4 separate regions of the Homo sapiens genome follow, and regions 1, 2 and 3 are each linked to region 4. Evidence: fine-mapped expression QTL. A gene starts in region 4. Each other region holds a variant in brackets. All regions are shown on one strand. Distances are from middle to middle.

Region 1 (5,424 bases), 220 kb before region 4:
CACTAGGCAGTACCCCAGTGGGGACTCAGTGTGGGGTCTTCAACCCCACATTTCCCTTCAGCACTGCCCTACCAGAGGTTCTCCATGAGGGCCCTGCCCCTGCAGCAAACTTTTGCCTGCTCCAAATCTGGGCATTTCCATACATCTTCTGAAATCTAGGTGGAGGTTCCCAAACCTCAGTTCTTGAGTTCTGTGCACCCACAGGCTCAACACCACATGGGAGCTGCCAAGGCTTGAGGCTTGCACCCTCTGAAGCCACAGCCTAAGCTGTACCTTGGCTCCTTTTAGCCATAGTTCAAGCAGCTGGGATGCAGGGCACCAAGTCTGTAGGCTGCACACAGCAGGGGGAGCCCACGAAACCATTTTTTCCTCCTAGGCCTCTGGGCCTGTGATGGGAAGGGCTGCCACAAAGGTCTCTGACATGTCCTGGAGATATTTTCCCCATTGTCCGGGCGATTAACATTTGACTCCTGGTTACTTATGCAAATTTCTTGAATTTCTCCACAGAAAATGTGTTTTTCTTTTCTGTTGCATGGTCAGGCTGCAAATTTTCTGAACTTTTATGCTGTATTTCCCTTTTAAAACTGAATGCTTTTAATAATATCAAAGTCACCTCTTGAATGCTTTGCTGCTTAGAAATTTCTTCCACCAGATACTTTATTTTTATTTTTATTTTTTTTGAGATGGAGTCTTGCTCTGTCACCCAGGCTGCAGGGCAGTGTTGCAATCTTGGCTCACTGCAAGCTCCGCCTCCTAGGTTCATGCCAGTCTCCTGCCTCAGCCTCCTGAGTAGCTGGGACTACAGGCACCCGCCATCATGCCAGGCTAATTTCTTTGTATTTTTTTAGTAGAGACGGGGTTTCACCATGTTAGCCAGGATGGTCTTGATCTCCTGACCTCATGATCCACCTGCCTCAGCCTCCCAAAGTGCTGGGATTACAGGCGTGAGCCACTGCACCCGGACCAGATACTTTAAGTCATCTCCCTCAAATCCAAAGTTCCACAAATCTCTACAGCAGGGGCAAAATGCCACCAGTCTCTTTGCTAAAACATAGCAAGCATCACCTTTACTCCAGTTCCCAACAACTTCATCTCCATTTGAGACTACCTCAGCCTGGAGTTCATTGCCCATATCATTATCAGCATTTTGGTCAAAGCCATTCAACAAGTCTCTAGGAAGTTCCAAACATTCCCACATTTTCCTATCTCCTTCTGAGGCTTCCAAACTGTTCCAACCTCTGCCTGTTACCCAATTCCAAAGTTGCCTCCACATTTTCGGGTATCTTTATAGCAGTACCCCACTCTACCAATTTACTATATTCATCTGTTTTCACATTGCTGATAAGGACATACTTGAGACTGGGTAATTTATGAAGACAAAGAGGTTTAATGGACTCACAGTTCCATGTGGCTGGGAGGCCTCACAATCATGGCAGAAGGTGAAAGCCCTGTCTTACATGGTGGCAGGTAAGAGCAAATGAGAGCCAAGCAAAAGAGGAAACCCCTTATAAAACCATCAGGTCTCTTGAGACTTATTCACTACCACGAGAACAGTGTGGGGAAACTGCCCCCATGACTCACTTATCTCCCACTGGGTCCCTCCCACAACGTGTGGGAATTATGAGAGTTACAATTCAAGATGAGATTTGGGTGGGGACACAGCCAAACCATATCACCTGGCTAATTTTATTTACTTTTTTTGTAGAAACGAGGTTTCACCATGTTTCTCAGGTTGGTCTCGAACTCCTGTACTCAAGCAATCCACCTGCCTCAGCCTCCCAAACTGCTAGGATTACAGTCATGACCCATCATGTCCAATCTCAAGTAATGTTTAATGTTTGGAGACGTTTAACTTCTTAAACACTTTATTTTTACATTATCCATCTAATGTGTAATTCTTCAGGCAAATGTTAATTACTTAATACTTAGAAAAATGCTAATTGTTTGAAACATTCTTAATGAATTGGGCATGAAATAAAAATAGCAACAAATTGCCTTCTGTACACACAAGAGCCTCCTCTTTTTGGCTCAGACCCCTACCCTGCACAGGATTAGCACTAAGGGTGGTCACCTGGGGCAGCTGATTGACCCTAGCCAACGTGGTCCTTTGGTTAAGCTCCTGCATTGTCGGCCAGGCATGGTGGCTCACGCCAGTAATCCCAGCACTTTGGGAGGCCGAGGCAGGCAGATCACTTGAGGTCAGGAGTTTGAGACCAGCCTGGCCAAT[A/G]TATGGTGAAACTCCGTCTCTAGTAAAAATACAAAAATTAGCCAGGCATGGTGGCACACGCCTGTAAGTCCAGCTATTTGGGAGGCTGAGACAGAAGAATTGCTTGAAACCGGGAGGCAGAGGTTGCAGTGAGCTGAGATCATGCCACTGCACTCCAGCCTGAGCACCAGAGTGAGACTCTGCCTCAAAAAAAAGAAAGAGAGAAAAGAAAAGAAAGGACGAGAAAAGAAAGAAAAGGAAAGGAAAGCAAAGGAAAGGAAAGGAAAGAAGAAAAGAAAAGAAAAAAGAAAAGACAAAAGGAGAGAGGTCGGGTGCAGTGGCTCATGCCTGTAATCCCAGCACTTTGGGAGGCCGAGGTGGGGGGATCACGAGGTCAGGAGATCGAGACCATCTTGGCCAACATGGTGAAACCCTGTCTCTACTAAAATACAAAAAATTAGCCGGGCGAGGTGGTGTGTGGCTGTAATTCCAGCTACTTGGGAGGCTGAGGCAGGGGAATCTCTTGAACCCGGGAGGCGGAGGTTGCAGTGAGCTGAGATCGCACCACTGCACTCCAGCCTGGTGACAGAGAAAGACTCCATCTCAAAAAAAAAAAAAAAAAAAAAAGAGAAAGAAATTATCCAATCAGGCTCCTTGCTTGGAATGGGGTCATGTCCATGTCAAACCCCATCATGAGTGAGCATGATACCACCCCAATGTGTGCAAGGCCCCTACCATCCCTCCAAGGTAGTATAAACAGGAAACAGGGAGTGACTTACATTGAGCAACTGGGAAGTCACCATAAAACAGAGATGGGCTTCCACCACAGGACCCAGTGGTGTGATAGCTCTGCCAAGGTCCCTCAGCGGGTTGCAAAGTACAACATGGGTTCTGTCAGCTTCTCCACATGCAGGGCGATCATGGTACAACATGGGTTCTGTCAGCTTCTCCACATGCAGGGCCATCATGGAGTGTCTCCTCAGGGAGGAATCCTTCTACACAAGGTTTAGCTGTGGCTGAAGGCTACTCATGTAGGGCTGGGTTTTGTTTTGTTTGTTTGTTTTTTGAGATGGAGTTTCACTCTGTTGCCCAGGTTGGAGTGCAGTGGCATGATCTTGGCTCACTGCAATCTCCGCCTTCCAGGATCAAGTGATTCTCCTGCCTCAGCCTCCTGAGTAACTGGGATTACAGGTGCCTGCCACCATGCCCGGCTAATTTTTCTGTTTTTAGTAGAGACAGGGTTTCATCATGTTGGCCAGGCTGGTCTCAAACTCCTGACCTCAAATGATCTGCCTGCCTCGGCCTCCCAAAGTGCTGGGATTACAGGCGTGAGCCACTGCACCCAGCTGTGTTTTTTGTTTGTTTGTTTGTTTGTTTTTGGTGAGGGAGACAGGGTCTTGCTCTGTCACCCAGTCTGGGGTGCAGTGGCTCTAACTCAGCTCACTGCAACCTCTGCCCCCTGAGGTCAAGCAATTCTCCTGCCTCAGCCTCTGGTGTAGCTGGGATTACAGATGGGCGTTACCATGCCCAGCTGATTTTTGTATTTTTTGTAAAGAGGGGGTTTGCCATGTTAGCCAGGTTGGTCTCAAACTCCTGACCTCAGGTGATCCCCCTGCCTTAGCCTCCCAAAGTGCTGGGATTACAGGCATGAGCCACCACACCTGGCCAGTGTGAATTCTTTTATACTAAATAAGGGAGGTGAAGACTTTCCTACATTTACTATAATCAAAAGGCTTTTCTCCAGGGTGAAGTTTCTGGTGCCAAGCAAGGCAGGAGCTGTGGCCGATGCTCTCCCATGCTGGCTGCACTCATAGAGGGTTTTTCCAGTGTGAATCACTTTGTGCACATCAAGGCAGGAGCTGCAATTTTTTGCTCTCCTACATGCTACACTCACAATGCTGTAAATTGCTGGTGCTAAATAGGATTAAAATTGAGAATAGGCTTTCCAACATTAGCTGCATGCACTGGGCCTCTCTGATGAGAATTCTGCAGGATGAGGTTTCATATTTCACTGAAAGCTTTCATGTAGTTATTGCATTTGTACAACCATTTTCCGGTGTTAATTTGTTTTTGCTAATGAAAGCAGAACTCTGAATATAACATGTATGAACCTCAAGTCAGGTACCAGGGAAGCCACCAGGACAGCTGGCAGTGCCCCACATTCCCTGAACTTAGGAGTCCTTCATTAGGGTATGACCATTTTGATACAGAGGAGAGTTTTGCAAAATTTTGCTCATGGCTGGACCACACTCCTTGCGCTTATGGGGACTTTCTCTGGGGTGAACATATTGGTGCTCAAAGGAGGTAGAGTTCTGGCTGGAGGATTCCCCATGTTACTATACTTGTAAGGGCCTTTGAAGATGTGCATGTACTCCTGCTTTCTCAGGATGAAGACAAAAGTGAAGGCCTTCCCATGCTCATAATACACTTGCAATTTTTTCCACTGTGAAGTTTTTTGGTAGGAGAAAAGGCTTGCTTCCCCTCAAACACCTTTCCATATGCTGTGTATTTATCAGCTATCTCTTCAGTGTCAGTTCTCTGTAGGTTCTGCAAAATGTGGAGCTGCAGGGCCCTAGTGTCTGGTGACAGGTCAGTACCATGCAGTGAGCGAAGTCCAGGTCTTGAACCATTGACACCTATGCCCATACTCCTCAAATGGAACAAGCCAGTCTCACGGAAGAAGAGGTTTTCAAAAACTATTTAGGTATCTATGTATTTATTTATTTATTTTAGAGATAGGATCTCGTTATGTTGCCCAAGCTGGACTCAAACTCCTGGTCTCAAGCGCTCCTCCTGCCTCAGCATCCCAAGTAGTTGGGACTGTAGTTATGAGCCACCATGTGCAGATAACAACTATTTAAAGATACATTATCCGTTCAAGACACATTAAAGGGAGGCCAATGGTAGAAGACCTGGCCACTGGAGGGGAGGACGGGAGAAGGGGAAAGAGTGAATCTTGGAAGACAGAGAGGAAGCCATCCAGGGAACAGGAGTCAGGGCAAAGTAGGATAGAGTGTCAGAAGAAGGTCAGGAAAATTTTTTTTAAAAGGCACAGCTATACATCCTGGTGCCAGGACAACAGAGGGCACAACTCAGGTACCAGGTGAGCCACCAGGGCACTGCCAACAGCTCTGCCACAGCTGTCTTCCACTCAACAGAACTGGTGCACCATGGGGCCTCTCTGTCCATGGCCTAATTCAAGCCACCCTGTCCACCAG
Region 2 (5,424 bases), 28 kb before region 4:
CAGCATGACTGGCTGCATCTGGGCTCCACCGTTTGCCACTTCAGACAGGTCCTTAGCCTCTTAGAGGTTCATTTTCCTTGCTGTAGCCCGGAGTAAGAATGTTTAGCCTACAAGATTTATTTTGAGGCATCAATGAATCACTATGTGAGCCTCACACAGTGTCTGGCACTGATATTACAAAATATGGTTGATCTTGCCATCCTTGTTATTGTCCTGGTGGGGATTCCTCTCTGTTGAAGATACGGAGCCTCTAAAAATGAGTGGCAGAGGCTCCCAGCTCAGGATCCTTGTCCAGGTCCTAAAGATCCTCCACTCTGCTTGTCACTCTGTTCATTATGTTTGCATGGCCACCACGGTCAACACTACTGCGGCCTACCTCAAGTTCTCATGCCTCACTCTCTGAGCTCATGAGGACACAAGGATCCTTTGGCAACACATTAACTACACTCTGTGGCCATCCCTTGACTTCTGAGAGGATGTTTCCCTCCTCTCAATCAAAAGCTCTCTTCCCTCCTGGGCAAGATCCTTGCATGCACCCAGCACCCTCACACCTGGTGCCCTCACACCCAGCACTCTCACACGTGGTGCCCTCACACCCAGCACCCTCACACCCAGCACCCTCACACCTGGTGCCCTCACACCCAGCACCCTCACACCTGGTGCCCTCACACCCAGCACCCTCACACCTGGTGCCCTCGCACCCAGCACCCTCACACCTGGTGCCCTCGCACCCAGCACCCTCACACCTGGTGCCCTCGCAACCAGCACCCTCACACCTGGTGCCCTCACACCCAGTGCCCTCACACCCAGCACTCTCACACTTGCACTGTCCTCATCCCAACTCTGTGGTTCCTCTGGGGAATCACTGTGGAATCCCTCATGGGAGGATGTTTTCAAAAGAAACAACAGCCCAATGAAGGGTATTTGAGGATGAGAAGCAGGAAAGAAGTCAGTGGGTGGCTGAGTTGTGTCCAGGTTTTGCGTGGCCATGGAAAATCAGGTGAAGGACATTAAATATCTTGCAGTGGCTTCTCCATTAGGAGCATGAAATGAGGAAAGGGGCTGTCCTCACAGGCCAGCCAAGAGGGATGCCTATGCCAAACAGAAAGACTGACAGTAAACAGAATCCAGGATGACATGACTGAGGTATGGTGTGCAGGGCATGGCCCAGGGAGGAGGGTAGATAAGTAAGCCTGGGTGCACCTTCAGAGGAAGAAATAACAGAGGCTGCAGGCGAGAGAGTTACAAGGAAGGAGGAGCAGGAAGACACGAGAAAAATTCAGATAAACTCAACATCTCCAGCCTGGGGGAAACGTGAGAGGGTGGTATGAAGATACACACGATGCATGTTGCTTAGTGAAAGCAGCCAGTCGGAAAAGGCTACGTAGTGAATGACCCCAACTATGACATTCTGAAAAAGGCAAAACTATGGAGACAGGATAAAGATCAGTGGTTGCCAGTGAGGCAGGAGAATAGGGTCTGGGGGCAGGGAGCCTAAGGCTGATTCATGCTGACTTCATGAACGGAATCAAAAGGAAAACCCTAAATTTCCATGCCCACGTAACAAAAGGATCAGAGGCTACTCCCTTTGCAACTCCCCCCAACTTTCTGTGTTGCAGATGAAAAATGGAAAGTGCCTCGGATTGGTCCCCTCCTGCAACCAGTCAGACATCTGCATAGAGCGTAACTTTGTAACTTCACTTCAGCCTCTGCTTGGTCACCTTCCACAACCAATCAGACTGGTCATGGGCCACTATTTCATAGGGTGTAAACCAAGTGACCAATGGGAAACATCTAGAGGGTATTTAAACCCCAGAAAATTCTGCGACCAGTGCTTTTGAGCCTTGCTTGGGCCTGCTCCCACTCTGTGAAGTGCATTTTTGTTTCAATACAGCTATGCTTTTGTTGCTTCTTTTGTTGCTTTGTGTGTTTCGTCCAATTCTTTGTTAAAAATGCCAAGAACCAGCCAGGCGTGGTGGCTCATGCCTGTAATCCCAGCACTTTGGGAGGCCGAGGCGGGTGGATCACGAGGTCAGGAGATCGAGACCATACTGGCTAACATGGTGAAAACCCGTCTCTAATAAAAATACAAAAAATTAGACGGGCGTGGTGGTGGGTGCCTGTAGTCCCACCTACTCAGGAGGCTCAGGCAGGAGAATGGCGTGAACCTGGGAGGCGGAGCTTGCAGTGAGCAGAGATCGTGCCACTGCACTCCAGCTTGGGCAACAGAGTGAGACTGAAATGCCTAAGCTTGTTTTTACTCTAACTGGTTACTTTGAATTTTGTCCTGCTTGTCTCTTTAATCACCTAGCCTTGCTTCTCATGTAAATAAGACTCTCTCTAGCTGGGAAGGCCGGACAAACTCCAATTGAC[C/T]CCTTAATTTACAAGACACTAAGGGCTCCTTACCCAACCCCCTTTCCTAAGGAGTTGGCCTGGGTAAACAGATCCTCAGCATTTCAAAAGAGCCCAATTAACTGATAAGGCACTAACACCAACAATGTATGAAGTTCCCAGGATTTTTCTCAAAGAGATAACAACAGAAAACCTTGAGTTTGTGTCCGGCATAGACCCTATATATCTAATTATAATGAAAGATTTAGAACCTTGCACGTGGTACCGTTGCTCTTCTTGTAACCGTTTAAGTTGTTTATCTCTCTGTAACCATTTTGCTTCTGTTGATTCTTGCATGTTTTTACTTCTGTAGACTTATTGCATTTGAGTCCCTCTCCCCTTCCTAAACCTAGGTATAAAAGTTAATCAAGCCCCTTCCTCGAGGCCGAGAGAATTTTGAGCATTAGCCGTCTCTTTGGCCGCCGGCTTAATTAAGGACTCTTAATTCGTCTCAAAGTGTGGCGTATTTTTAACTCGCTTGGGTACAACAAGACTCCATCTCAAAAAAAAAAAAGTAAAAGAACACAATGCCAAGAACATAGACACCCTCCACTGGTAACATATTTTGGTGAGCCAGCCAGGAGGTAGGCTCGAGGTTTGGGATTTCTTTCTTTTCTCTTTTTGTTTTCCCTTTTCCATATAGGGGAATCCTTTTCTCTCTCTCTTTTTCCCTTTCCAACTTACGGATCCTTGGTGGACAGCACATAAGCATGCAAGCAACTGTAAGTTTCTGGCCGGAGCCACTCTCTGGTGAAACGGAAAGATTTCTGTGTGGAAGTGCCTGACCGCTACCACCCAGTTCGGGTGAAGGACCTTAGTCCTTTTCCTTTTTCTCTTTTTCAGAAAATCTTTCAGCTGCCGTTTCCTACTAGTTCCTTGGTAACTGAGGGCAGCTGGCCAGGGCCACCCTCTGGTGTTGCCTGAAGGCCAAGGCGTAAATGGGGATAGCTGCCCTGCCCAGAAGGGGAAAAGACTCTTTTCTCTATTTTCCAGTTACAGTCCCTGATCCCTATCTGTGATGCAACTGGCAGCGGCAGCTCATCCAGGGCGAACTCACGCATATTTCAGGTGACTTAAATCCTCTTTTCTTATGCAAAATTCTCCTTAAAGTCAGCCTGTAAGGGCAAAAGATAATGTATCTCATGCATTTGACTTACCTTCTCTTACTCGATTTGACTGTCTGAAGACCTTTGGGATCCACAAGCTTCAGTAGACATTCTACATCTCAGACTTCACTGAGGGGATCCCATAGGTTGACGGTCATTGCTTCTGCATCAATTTGCTTTCCCTGAATCTCACAGAAATTCTCAACCCCAGCCAGGTGCAGTGGCTCACACCTGTAATCTCTGCACTTTGGGAGGCCAAGGCGGGTGGATCACCTGAGGTCAGGAGTTTGAGACCAGCCTGGCCAACATGGTGAAACCACAGCTCTACTAAAAATACAAAAAAATTGGCTGGGCATGGTGGCACACGCCTGTAATCCCCAGCTACTCAGGAGGCTGAGGCAGGAGAACTGCTTGAACTCGGGAGGCGGAGGTTGCAGTGACCCGAGATCATGCCACTGCACTCCAGCCAGCCTGGGCAACAAGACCAAAACTCCGTCTAAGGCTGGGCGCTGTGGCTCACACCTGTAATCCCAGCACTTTGGGAGGCTGAGGCGGGTAGATCACGAGGTCAGGAGATCGAGACCATCCTGGCTAACATGGTGAAACCCCATCTCTACTAAAAAGTACAAAAAATTAGCCGTGCGTGGTGGCGGGCGCCTGTAGTCCCAGCTACTCAGGAGGCTGAGGCAGGAGAATGGCGTGAACCCGGGAGGCGGAGCTTGCAGTGAGCCGAGATCGCGCCACTGCACTCCAGCCTGGGCGACAGAGTGAGACTCCATCTCAAAAAAAGAAAAACTCTGTCTCAAGAAAAAAAAAAAAAAAAGAAAGAAAGAAATTCTCAATCTCAGTCTTTCACATACCGCTGGATCCTTCCTTCACAGAGAATACCCCACCAACCTTGGTACTATTAACTCTGCAATGTTTCAGAACCTCCTTAGTCCTGTGAGGAATGCAGGAAGATACATCACACTGAAATTAGTGGGATACTAAAAGTCTGGGATTACGCCCAGGAACCAAAGGAAAGCTCACAGTAGACCATCGCCACTGGAGGGAAAACATATAAAGCAGCACTGGTGCCCACCTAAAGTCAGAGATGTCTGACACTCTAAGATTGGACCCCAAAGGGGGATCCTCTAGGGGATCCAACTCCAGACCTCAACCTCTCCAAAGGGGACACCCTAGGCTGAGGTTCTGAGGAATAGTACTACACCCTCCCTAGGATTTTCTCTCTTACAGACAATAATAGGAAACACTCCATCTATTCCATCTGACTCCCTGCTTGGCTGCATCCTCAACGACTGGAATAAATTTGACCCTGATAATCTAAGGAGGAAACACTTGATATTCTTTTGCAATACTGTTTGGCCCCAACATTGTTTGGAATCTGGAGTTTGCTGTTGAATGGGAAAGTGAGATGGAGTTGCATGTATCCAGGCATTTGTGCTGCTGTTCCTTTTTTTTTTTGAGATGGAGTCTCGTTCTGTCACCCAGGCTGGAGTGCAGTGTCGTGATATCAGCTTACTGCAAGCTATGCCTCCCGGGTTCACGCCATTCTCCTGCCTCAGCCTCTCAAGTAGCTGGGACTACAGGTGCCCGCCACCAGGCCTGGCTAATTTTTTGTATTTTTAGTAGAGATGGGGTTTCACCATGTTAGCCAGGATGGTCTTGATCTCCTGACCTCGTGATCCGCCTGCCTGGGATTACAGGCGTGAGCCACCGCACCCAGCCGACTTAAGTAAATCTTTACTAAAGAAGTTGGCTTTAAAATTATTGGTAAAATGAAAATAGAAATGTCTTCAGAATTGTCAACATATATGGTTTTATATTTGTCTTTGCAAGATATTTTAAGGTGTCAGTGTTTGGCACAGAAGGTTATAAAGGTATTAACCCAGCCAAAACAAAAAATGGTCCTGGTTTGTATGCTTTC
Region 3 (5,424 bases), 40 kb before region 4:
TCCTGGGGTCAAAGAATCCTCCCAACTCAGCTTCCTGAGTAGCTGGGACTTCAGGTATGTGCTACTATGCCCGGCTAATTTTTGTATTTTTTGTAGAGACCAGGTCTCGCCATGTTGCCCAGGCTGGTCTCCAACTCTTAGGCTCAAGTGATCCACCTGCCTCAGCCTCCCAAAGCACTGGGATTACAGGTGTGCACCACCATATCCACTGCACCCACCTCCAGCCACTTTTAACCATATCTGTTCCAATTCTTCTTGAGGACACCTCCGTAATTCTAATCTTTGATCATCTTTAGTCTTTTTTTTTTTTTTTTTCCTGGAGACGGAGTCTGACTCTGTTGCCCAGGCTGGAGCACAGTGATGCAATCTCAGCTCACTGCAACCTCCACTTCCTGGGTTCAAACGATTCTCCTGCCTCAGCCTCCTGAGTAGCTGGGATTACAGGTGCCCACCACCACGCTGGGCTAATCTTTGTATTTTTAGTAGAGACAGAGTTTCACCATGTTGGCCAGGCTGGTCTCAAACTCCTGACCTCAGGTGATCCACCCACCTCAGCCTCCCAAAGTGCTGGGATTACAGGCATAAGCCACCGCATCCAGCCAATCATCTTTAGTTTTCACTAACTTCCTGCTCTGACAGGTGAGGATCTGACTCACATCCGCTGCCAATTCCTCTCATATTACATTTCAAGCTTTAATTTTCATCTTCTAAATAAACTTACATATCATGTTTAAAAGCCTACTTCCTAAAAGGATGGTAAGGGAAACCTCTACTCTCCACTACTACTTTCCCCATCTACTCTCCCACATCTGCAGGTGGGGCTGACATTGTCAGTGACAGGAATAATGACAACAGTGCCCTACCCTACGGCCACTATGAAGTTGTCAGGTCACAGCCATGTGTTACTTCCTAAAAATTAAAAGCCAATACAGGCCGGGTGCAATGGCTCATCCCTGTAATCCCAGCACTTTGGGATGCCAAGGTGGGCGGATCACAAGGTGAGGAGTTGGAGACCATCCTGACCAACATGGTGAAACCCTGTGTCTACTAAAAATACAAAAATTAGCTGGGCGTGGTGGCACGTGCCTGTAATCCCAGCTACTCAGGAGGCTGAGGCAGGAGAATTGCTTGAACCCGGGAGGCGGAGGTTACAGTGAGCCAAGATCGCGCCACTGCACTCCAGACTGGGCAACAGAGACTCCTTCTCAAAAAAAAAGAAAAAAAAAGCCAATACCTAGGGTTCACGTCACAGCTATGCAAATGCCATTCCCTGAAGGGTCAATCAACAATCTGACTGCATCTCCTCCTCCTTTATTCAAATTTCATGAGCTTTTTGCCCCCTCCAGCAAGAATTACTCACATCAGTGTCAAGTGAACACTACTTTCTAAAGTTACCTTCACATAGGAACTATAACCATCTAGCAGAATTTGTATAGTTTGAGCACAATTTACCTTGAAGCCTTCAATTAAAATTACCTTTTTTTTTAAGTTATGGGTGAATAAACATTCCTTTTCTTGCCCTATTCCTTTTCTAGATTAAAGCTATTCCTTTCTTAGATTCAAAACTATTTTCTCTAGAGAAGGTTCTGCCATGCCATTTGCTCTGTTTTGAGACAGAGTCTCATTCTGTCGCCCAGGCTGGAGTCCAGTGGCATGATCTAGACTCATTGCAACCTCTGCCTCCCAGGTTCAAGTGATACTCCTGCGTCAGCCTCCTGAGTAGCTGGGATTGCAGGCATTTATCACCACACTTGGCTAATTTTTGTATCTTTAGTAGAGACAGGGTTTCACCATCTTGGCCAGGCTGGTCTCAAACTCCTAACCTAGAGTGATCCACCTGCCTCGGTCTCCCAAAGTGCTGGGATTACAGGCGTGAGCCACCATGCCAGCCCTGCCATCTTTTTTTTTTTTTTTTTTTTTGAGACAGAGTCTCGCTTTGTCGCCCACGCTGGAGTGCAGTGGCACAATCTTAGCTCACTGCAACCTCCACCTCCTGGGTTCAAGCAATTCTCCTACCTCAGCCTCCCAAGTAGCTGGGATTACAGGTGTGAGCCACCATGCCCGACCCTGACATTTTTTTTGTTTGTTTTTTTTTGAGACAGAGTCTCGCTTTGTCGCCCAAGGCTGGAGTGCAGTGGCACAATCTTAGCTCACTGCAACCTCTACCTCTCGAGTTCAAGCGATTCTCCTGCCTCAGCCTCCTGAATAGCTGGGATTATAGGCGGCTGCCACCATGCCTGGCTAATTTTTGAATTTTTATTAGAGATGAGGTTTCACAATGTCGGCCAGGCTGGTCTCAAACTCTTGACTTCAGGTGATCTGCCTGCCTCAGCCTCCCAAAGAGCTGGGATTACAGGCGTGAGCCACCACGCCCAGCCTGCCATCTGTTTTTAGTCGTGGTGTTCTCAGTTTTCCACGATGCATGGGTCTTATTAATTCTGATAATAATGGCATGACCTGAAAATTTCCTTTCAGCCCTGGGGAAGTTTCCCTTTCTTTTTCTTACTTATTTGTTCAATGTGGAAAGTAAAAGTTCCTCTTCAAAGTTTCCCTTCTTGTTAAAGAATAAATCATAAGTGTTAAAAAATAATAGTTTCTTTTATAAACTAACTTCCTTGAAACCTCCTTGCTTTGTGCTAGTAAGTCTTTGTTAGGCCCTATCCTATGTAGCTGGTAAACATGCTCACAGGCACGTAGTACGTTCTATGTCCCTGTACCTTAACCAAGTTATTTGTGCTGGACATGCTCATGGTCACGTTCCAGCTTACAGCCTATGCTCCTTCCATATCTGGCATAAGCAACTTCCT[C/G]TTTTCCTTCGTCTTTCCACTACTTTTACCTATTTAGAAAAGTTTTAAACTGTTAGCTAATCTAGTTTTAGTTTAGATTGTGCAGGCTGGCTCCAGCCAACGGAGACAGGACACAGTAGCAGGGACAAACTGCCTAAGGAATAAAAATTGCTTCCCTCCTTTGTTCAGGTGTGCTCTTGCCATTGTTCCATCTGTGATGAGCACCCTTTCTGCAGAAAGTAAAAACGGCCTTGCTGAGAGAATTAAATTTATGTTTTGAGTGCTATTTCTTTGCAGCACCAGGCAACAAGCATTCTGTTTCTCACTAAACATTGTATCTATAACATTGAACAATCTTACTTGTAATTTCAAAGAGCCTGTTCTGGTTCTCATTGTTCTATTTTATCAAAGTATCTTATTTTTTATTTTTATTTATTTTTTCTGAGACGGAGTTTCACTCTTGTTGCCCAGGCTGGAGTGTAATGGCACTAGACCTCGGCTCACTGCAATCTCCACCTCCCAGGTTCAAGCGATTCTCCTGCCTCAGACTCCTGAGTAGCTGGGATTACAGGCATGCACCACCATGCCCGGCTAATTTTGTATTTTTAGTAGAAACAGGGTTTCTCCATGTTGGTCAGGCTGATCTCAAACTCCCAACCTCAGGTGATCCGCCCGCCTCGGCCTCCCAAAGTGTTGGGATTATAGGCGTGAGCCACTACGCCCAGTCTGTCTTATTTTTTACTGGTAACCCTCTTTTTTTTTTTGAAACGCAGTCTCGCTCTGTTGCTCAGGATGGAGTGCAGTGGCGTGATCTCGGCTCACTGCAAGCTCCTTCTCCTGAGTTCACGCCATTCTCCTGCCTCAGCCTCCCGAGTAGCTGGGACTACAGGTGCCCGCCACCATGCCCAGCTAATTTTTTGTATTTTTAGTAGGGACGGGGTTTCACCTGTTAGCCAGGATGATCTCGATCTCCTGACCTCGTGATACGCTTGCCTCGGCCTCCCGAAGTGCTGGGATTACAGGCGTGAGCCACCGCACCAGACCTTTTTTTTTTTTTTTTTTTTTTTTAGATGGAGTCTCGCTCTGTCACCCAGGCTGGAGTGCAATGGCATGATCTCGGCTCACTGCAACCTCTGCCTCAGCCTCCCAAGTAGCTGGGATTACAGGCGCCCACCACCACACTCAGCTAATGTTTGTATTGTATTTTTAGTAGATATGGGGTTTCACCATGTTGATCAGGCTGGTCTCGACCTCCTGACCCCACGATCCGACCGCCTCGGCCTCCCAAAGTACTGGGATTACAGGCATGAGCCACCACACCCGGCCTTGTAACCCTTTCTTGACTCACTTTTACGTTAACAAAATGCTTTAAATATTTGATTCTGCTGGGTGCGGTGGCTCACACCTGTAATCCCAGCACTTTGGGAGGCCAAGGTGGGTGGATTACTTGAGGTCAGGAGTTTGAGACCAGCCTGGTCAACATGGTGAAACCCCGTGTCTACTGAAAATACAAAAAATAGCTTGGCATGGTGGCACGTGCCTGTAATCCCAGCTACTTGGGACATTGCGGCAGGAGAATTGCTTGAACCTGGGAGGCAAAGGTTGCAGTGAGCCGAGATCGTGCCACTGCACTACAGCCTGAGCAACAGAATGAGACTCCGTCTCAAAAAACAAAGAATATTTGGTTCCTCTGAATATCTGTCTTTTCTGCTGTCTTAGATACCTTCTCTCATGATGGAGACTTTATCTTTTGCTCCTTGCCTCCCACCCATATTGAAGAGACTATCAGAAAGCAGACAGGAAGCTCCACAGACAGGCGGGGCTGCTTTAACAGTACGCTTTGCTCGAGGGTGAAGAGGGCGAGAACCAGCTATCAGGTAAAAAGTTCTGAAATGCCAGAATAAAGCAGCCCTTGCTGCAGAGCAAAATACATCAGATTCCCTTGTCCCCTGAACTAATCTTTTAGCACATGACTCCTTCCCTACTTTAATTTTTGCTACCCACAGCCAGATAGGTAATGCCAGGCAAGAAAAAAAAATGGGGAAGAGTCTGAGTTTCATGGACAGACCTTCGATTAACCCACTTTCTGGTCTATCAGTCTATGGCTCTGCTGGGGCTGCCACATCTGCTGCCACAGCCTCTCCTCGCCTGACCCTCTCCAGCCTTCCTCATTCTGTATGTTTCGCTATTGGCTATACTTCCATCTTTTTTTTTTTTTTTTTTTTTTTTTGAGACCGAGTCTCACTCTGTCGCCCAGGCTGGAGTGCAGTGGCATGATTTTGGCTCACTGCAAGCTCTGCCTCCTGGGTTCATGCCATTCTCCTGCCTCAGCCTCCCTCGTAGCTGGGACTACAGGCACCTGCCACCACACCTGGCTGATTTTTTGTATTTTCAGTAGAGACGGGGTTTCACTGTGTTAGCCAGGATGGTCTTGATCTGACCTCGTGATCCACCCTCCTTGGCCTCCCAAAGTGTCGGGATCACAGGCGTGAGCCACCGCACACAGCCCTTTTTTTTTTTTTTTTTTTTTTTGAGACAGAGTCTCGCTTTTCGCTTTTTTGCCCAGGCTGGAGTTCAACGGCGCAGTCTCGGCTCACTGCAACCTCCACCTTCTGGGTTCAAGTGATTTTCCTGCCTC
Region 4 (5,424 bases):
TAAAGACATGAATTAAAACACACCGGGGCCTATGATCTCAGCTTCCTTCCCTAGCAAATGCCCCAGGCCTTCCTACCTTTCAAAATCCACTGACCACTCAGGCTGTACTTCCTACAGGCCAGGCACTGTACCCTGTCCTCTGCCTGAATTCATGCATTTGATCTTCCTTGTAACCCCACAAAGACAATTAACAGAATTTACCCTGCTTTCTAAATGAGGAAACCAAGGCAGAAAGAACTTGAGTAAAATTTAACTGAGGCCTCGTGGCTGGGGAGTGAGAAGGTGGGAGCTCCATAGCTCATGGCCCTAAGCACACTACCACTCAGGCTCCCAGCCTCCCCGTCTGGTACACCCCACCCCAGCCCAGCCCAATGCCCCTGTTCTTTTTCTTAACATCCTTGGCCTGAGGCCCACCTCTTGGCCTCTCTGATCTGTTTGTTCTGTGCAATCTGCCTATGCCCTTGACTGCCCTCTCTGCCCAACCCTGCTAGTTTCTGAGTTCTGGGTGGTATAGGAGTTCAGGAACACCAGTATCCACTCAGTCACTATCCCCTTACAGCTGCGAGCTCATGCTCTCACACCCTACTTCAGTCCCCTCCCACCACTGTCCTCTCTGTGCAGACAAATCGGCCTTTTAATTCACTCCAAGGGATGACTCTGGACTCTTTCAACCTCCTGGCACACAAACTCCTGCAGGCCTGCACTCATTAGTAGCTCCCTTCAAATTCTGAGCTGAGATGTCTTCTCCCTGGTCAAGATGAATCCATATCCCAGTGCCCCACCCCCTGCCTCTTCTCCTCTCAGGTGAGGCCTGAACAGAGTGACCAACACTCTCAGTTTCCCCCTCCTCATCTTGCCCATCCTGCTCTGCTCTCTCACTCCCAAACACACACACAAACACAAATGTAGACCACATCCAAGAGGTCTGCCCAATATCTTATGTGTTACTATCTTGTCCTGATGCTCCTGGCCTTCCCTGGGGAATCTCTCACTGCCTGTGTCCATCTTTGCTCTCTAACCCTGTCCTTCCTTGTCTGGAGGCATCCAAGGGCAACGGCTGAGAACACTCACTTTGCAACCTGCTGTCAAAGTACTGGCTCCATTACCTGCCACTGTAGGACTCTGAACGGGTCTCTTTAACCTCTCCAGGCCTCAGTTTCCTCATCCGTAGACATCTGGAAAAACAGCAAGACCTGCCTTGTGAGGATGCTAAAAGAATTAATTGAGTTGCATTTACAGAGCTTAACATTGTGTTAACCTGCAAAAGGGGCACAACACATGTATTCATAGTGATTATACTTGGACATAAAATTCCCCATCTGTTCCTCATACTGGACCTGTATGGTGGCTGATCTGGCAGAAGTCCCTCTGGCTGCAGGGCTGGGGAGGGAGTTGCTTTCTCTTTCCTTTTCCAGTTTTCTCCTTCCCTGCTTGTGGGGTGACGTTTCCAATCTGCTCCAGGTTACGTGTCCAGCCCAAACCTCCTGGGCTTCCTGCCACTGCCATTCCCTCCTCCACATTCAGCCATGTCACCCACATGCTCCTCAACTCCCATGCAGAGACTGACCAGGCATACCACATCTTCCTTGCACTGTGACTTCTACCCTGGCTCCACGCTGGAAACAGAAACACAGTCTTCCTCCACTCCTTCCTGTCTTTTGGCATCCCTCCTTACACGGAGTCATTTCCACAATCAGATGTTTCCCTACTCCCTTAGACTCTTGAAATCCAACCCCATGCCTTCCTCATTAGCACTGCCTTGTACGGTCCCCATCAAATATCACCCAACACAAATGGAACCCCGATCCCTAACTTACAGGCGTTACATACACATCCCATCCTGTTCACCTCTGTAGTCTCTCTATGGGGTGCACCAGCATCGCTTAACCAGTGCAGGCCCCCAACACCCCAGTTACCCCTGCCCTGCGTGGACTGGCCTTAATCTTCTGTTCACTTGGAAAATACACATGTTCTCTGCAAGGTTCAAGCTTCACGTACCATTGGAAGAAAATGTGTCCACGTCTGGAGCTGGGATGACCTCTGGGGTCCAATAGGCGTCACCTGCCTGGTGCCGCTGTGCCAGGAGGCTCTTGGCTGCCACCTGTGGATAAGCCGCAGAAGATGAGTTGAGGGAGGAAAAAGGAGCCGGGAGAGGCCCGCTGGGTCGGCAGCCCCAGAGCTCCAGACGCCAGCCTGAATCCCCCGCCCCTGCAGCCCTCGACCCAGGCACCCTCTGTCGGGAGGGCCCACCCAGTCCCACCCAGTCCCACCCAGTCCCACCCAGTCCCACCCAGTTCCACCCCTGCCCGTACCTGCGAGGTACTATAAGTTCCCTCCCAGCTCTGCAGCAGGAGAGCCTCCCGACAAGCTCAGACCCAGCCGGGCGCTCCTGCAGGGGAAACCTGACTGGACCGGCCTTCCCCGTCCCTGAGGCCGGAGAGATCCCGATCCCATCAGGCCCCTGCCCTTGCTCGGCCTCGCCGCATGAGGGACCCCCGCAGGCCCTGCTCGTTTCTCCGGCACGCCCAGATCACTTGGGGCGGCTCTGGCCTGGTCCTGCGCTCCGGCCGCACCCGGCTAACAGTGAAACCTCCGAGCCAACCTTGAGGCCGCCAGACTCACCTGCACGCACCGGCCAATGGCGGTGCTTCCGGTGGCCGGCGGACGTGCCCGCGCTCCGCGCAACAAACAACTCCCAGAAGGCCGCGCGCCGGTAGCCGTTGCTCCCACAGGCATAGTCATTGCCGGCGGGAGCATGGGGCCCCGCGGCGGCGGGATGAGCTTTTTCCTGTGTTCGCGACTAGCATTGTGGCTTAGGGAGTTGCTTCCCGCGGCTCTGCTCCTTGCAGCGCCTGTCCCCTCCCCCTTAAACGGGCCACGCTGGTTCTCATCCAGCAACCGAAGCCGAGACTGTGGAGGCGGCGGTCGGCGTCCAGGGCGGGACTAGCGCCTATGGGGCTCGGCGCTGTCATCTCGGGTGCCTTCCCGGCGCCTTGCCCTGCTGGGGAGAGAGACCAAGACTGAGCCATGAGAACAGTCCAAGGCCGTTAACCGGGAGCTCAGGGGCAAGGGCGCCCGCCAACATCTGCGCCTGTGGCAGGGACTCAGGGACAGCCTGGGCGTGGGGACGCGTCCTAGTGATAGAAACAAAGCCCCGGGAGTGCCCTGCTTGGAGCATTCCGAGTGGAAGGTGGAAGCACGCTAACTGGAGGCGATTCGTCCTAGGTGATCGCTCAGTCGAGCCTATTTGGCTTTCTGTGGTAGCTCCTAAGTGGGACAGGGAAAAAAATAGGGAGGCTGGCAGTGACCAAGTTCTGTTTTGTACCTATTGCTGCAGAAGTTGTGGGACAGAGTTCTGTTATTATAAATGGTCTGATGTTCAGTCTCAGTGCGTTGTGGGGCTCAATGTCTGAGACCCACCACCGCCTGACCCGTCCTGGCTCTTCAATGAGGGAGACCACAGGAAACTTTCCTACGAAGGCCAGGTAGGCGGGAACCACTGTGGCTCAGGCACCCTCAGCTCCTGGACTGTGCTTTTGTGTCTGGGGTGCATCTGTGACTAGCCTTCCTTGGCTTGACTGTTTTGTAGCTGACCTTGTCGATAGCTTTACCCAACAGTCATCATCTTTTTACTTGCTTATTTTCATACCTGGCTAGCACGACCCTGCAATTTTTAGATTCTTCCGGGAAATCTAGAATCTAACTCCCTAAGGGAGGATCTTGATGGATTCTAAGCTAATCAGAATGGACTCAAGCTTCTTGCTGTGTGAATTAGGCAAGGATATTCTGGCCAAGGAGAAATAAGGCTGCTAGGGGTTTCCTGGGAAGGTTCCCTCAGTCTTTTTTTTTTTTTTTTTTTTTTTTTTTTTTTGTGAGACGGAGTCTCGCTCTGTCCACCAGGCTGGAGTGCAGTGGTACGATCTAGGCCCACGGCACTCTCCGCCTTCCGGGTTCACGCCTTTCTCCTGCCTCAGCCTCCCGAGTAGCTGGGACTACAGGCGCCCGCCACCACGCCCGGCTAATTTTTTGTAATTTTTCTTTTTTAGTAGAGACGGTGTTTCTCCCTGTTAGCCAGGATGGTCTCGATCTCCTGACCTCATGATCCACCCGCCTCGGCCTCCCAAAGTGCTGGCATTACAGGCATGAGCCACCGCTCCCGGCCGGTTCCCTCAGTCTTAAAAGTGGACATAAGATAGCAATGTGTCTTCTTTTGCCCCTGGACCGTGATGTCTGTATGTGATGTGTAGGACAATTACAAGCACACTGGCACCATGAGGAAGCCACCCCAGGAGGTAAAGGCAACATGCTGAGAATGGCACAGCAGAAAAATGGAAAGAACCAGTATCCATGATGGAATGAATCCTCTTTGTGCCACTGAATCAACATTGCCTATGCTCACCTCAGGGACTTTTCATTATGAGATAATAAATGATCTTGTTTGTTTTTATTATAGAAAATTTCAGGCCAGGAGTGGTGGCTCACGCCTGTAATCCCAGCACTTTGGGAGGCTGAGGCAGGCCGATCACGAAGTCAGGAGATCGAGACCATCCTGGTTAACATGGTGAAACCCCGTCTCTACAAAAAATACAAAAAATTAGCCGGGCGTGGTGGCGGGAGCCTGTAGTCCCAGCTCCTTGGGAGGCTGAGGCAGGAGAATGGCCCTGAACCCAGGAGGCGGAGCTTGCAGTGAGCCAAGATCACGCCACTGCACTCTAGCCTGGGCAACAGAGGGAGACTCCGTCTCAAAAAAAAAAAAAGTTCAAGTAAATAAGAACTTTGATGTTACATTTCTGTTTACTGTTTCCATGTCTGTATCAATAATGGAGTCGTCTGAGGAACAACTTTCCCTACATCAGTGTTTATATTATTCAGTTTTAGGCTTAGTGCTTAAGCTTAGTGATCGCCTTTTGTAGGATTGTGTCATAAGAGCAAAGAATGACCATATATTGTTACATTAAAAATGTTACCTTTGGCTGGGCACAGTGGCTTATGCCTGTAATTCCAGCACTTTGGGAGGCTGAGACAGGTGAATCACCTGAGGTCATGAGTGCAAGGTCAGCCTGGCCAACATGGCGAAACCCTGTCTCTACTAAAAATACAAAAACTAGCCAGGTGTGGTGGTGGGCACCTGTAATCCCAGCTACTCAGGAGGCTGAGACAGGAGAATGGCTTGAGCCCAGGAGGTGGAGGTTGCAGTGAGCCGAGATGGTGCCACTGCACTCCTCCAGCCTGCCTCTGACTCAAAAAAAAAAAAAAAAAAAGTTACTTTTACCTTGATGTCTAAATAAAAGGGAAGAAAATCTTTTAAAAGTTATGGCTGGGCACAATGCCTCACACCTGTAACCCCAGAACTTTGGGAGGCTGAGGTTGGAAGATCACTTGAGACCAAGAGGTTGAGGCTGCAGGGAGTGATGATCTTGCCAC

The links. PIP is the estimated chance that this variant, and not a neighbour inherited with it, causes the effect. A credible set is the group of variants that fine-mapping cannot tell apart.
Region 1: its variant is the best candidate, but not a certain one, in a credible set for the expression of ZNF544 in cerebellar hemisphere (GTEx, PIP 0.82).
Region 2: its variant is the best candidate, but not a certain one, in a credible set for the expression of ZNF544 in whole blood (INTERVAL, PIP 0.85).
Region 3: its variant is the best candidate, but not a certain one, in a credible set for the expression of ZNF544 in tibial artery (GTEx, PIP 0.79).

Annotation. Positions count from the first base shown.
Region 1 is chr19:58,443,983-58,449,406 of GRCh38, reverse strand. It overlaps ZNF132-DT (ZNF132 divergent transcript), which reads right to left. Exons shown (of 1, transcript NR_186311.1): 1 at 4,906-5,424. It also overlaps a transcript of ZNF324B not described here and the pseudogene LOC100419848. Among named protein-coding and RNA genes, the nearest start is that of ZNF324B, 4.9 kb to the left of the region's middle. The variant A/G (reference allele first, on the strand shown) is at 2,228.
Region 2 is chr19:58,253,761-58,259,184 of GRCh38, reverse strand. The region is part of intron 6 of ZNF544 (zinc finger protein 544); the gene reads right to left. ZNF8-DT (ZNF8 divergent transcript) reads left to right here. Exons shown (of 3, transcript NR_187495.1): 3 at 1-1,912. Among named protein-coding and RNA genes, the nearest start is that of ZNF8-DT, 22 kb to the left of the region's middle. The variant C/T (reference allele first, on the strand shown) is at 2,374.
Region 3 is chr19:58,266,107-58,271,530 of GRCh38, reverse strand. All of the region lies in intron 1 of ZNF8-DT (ZNF8 divergent transcript), which reads left to right. It also overlaps a transcript of ZNF544 not described here. Among named protein-coding and RNA genes, the nearest start is that of ZNF8-DT, 9.9 kb to the left of the region's middle. The variant C/G (reference allele first, on the strand shown) is at 2,808.
Region 4 is chr19:58,226,145-58,231,568 of GRCh38, reverse strand. ZNF544 (zinc finger protein 544) reads right to left here and starts at 2,655. Exons shown (of 7, transcript NM_014480.4): 1 at 2,623-2,655; 2 at 1,999-2,101; 3 at 1,107-1,175. RefSeq lists an enhancer at 1,953-2,779.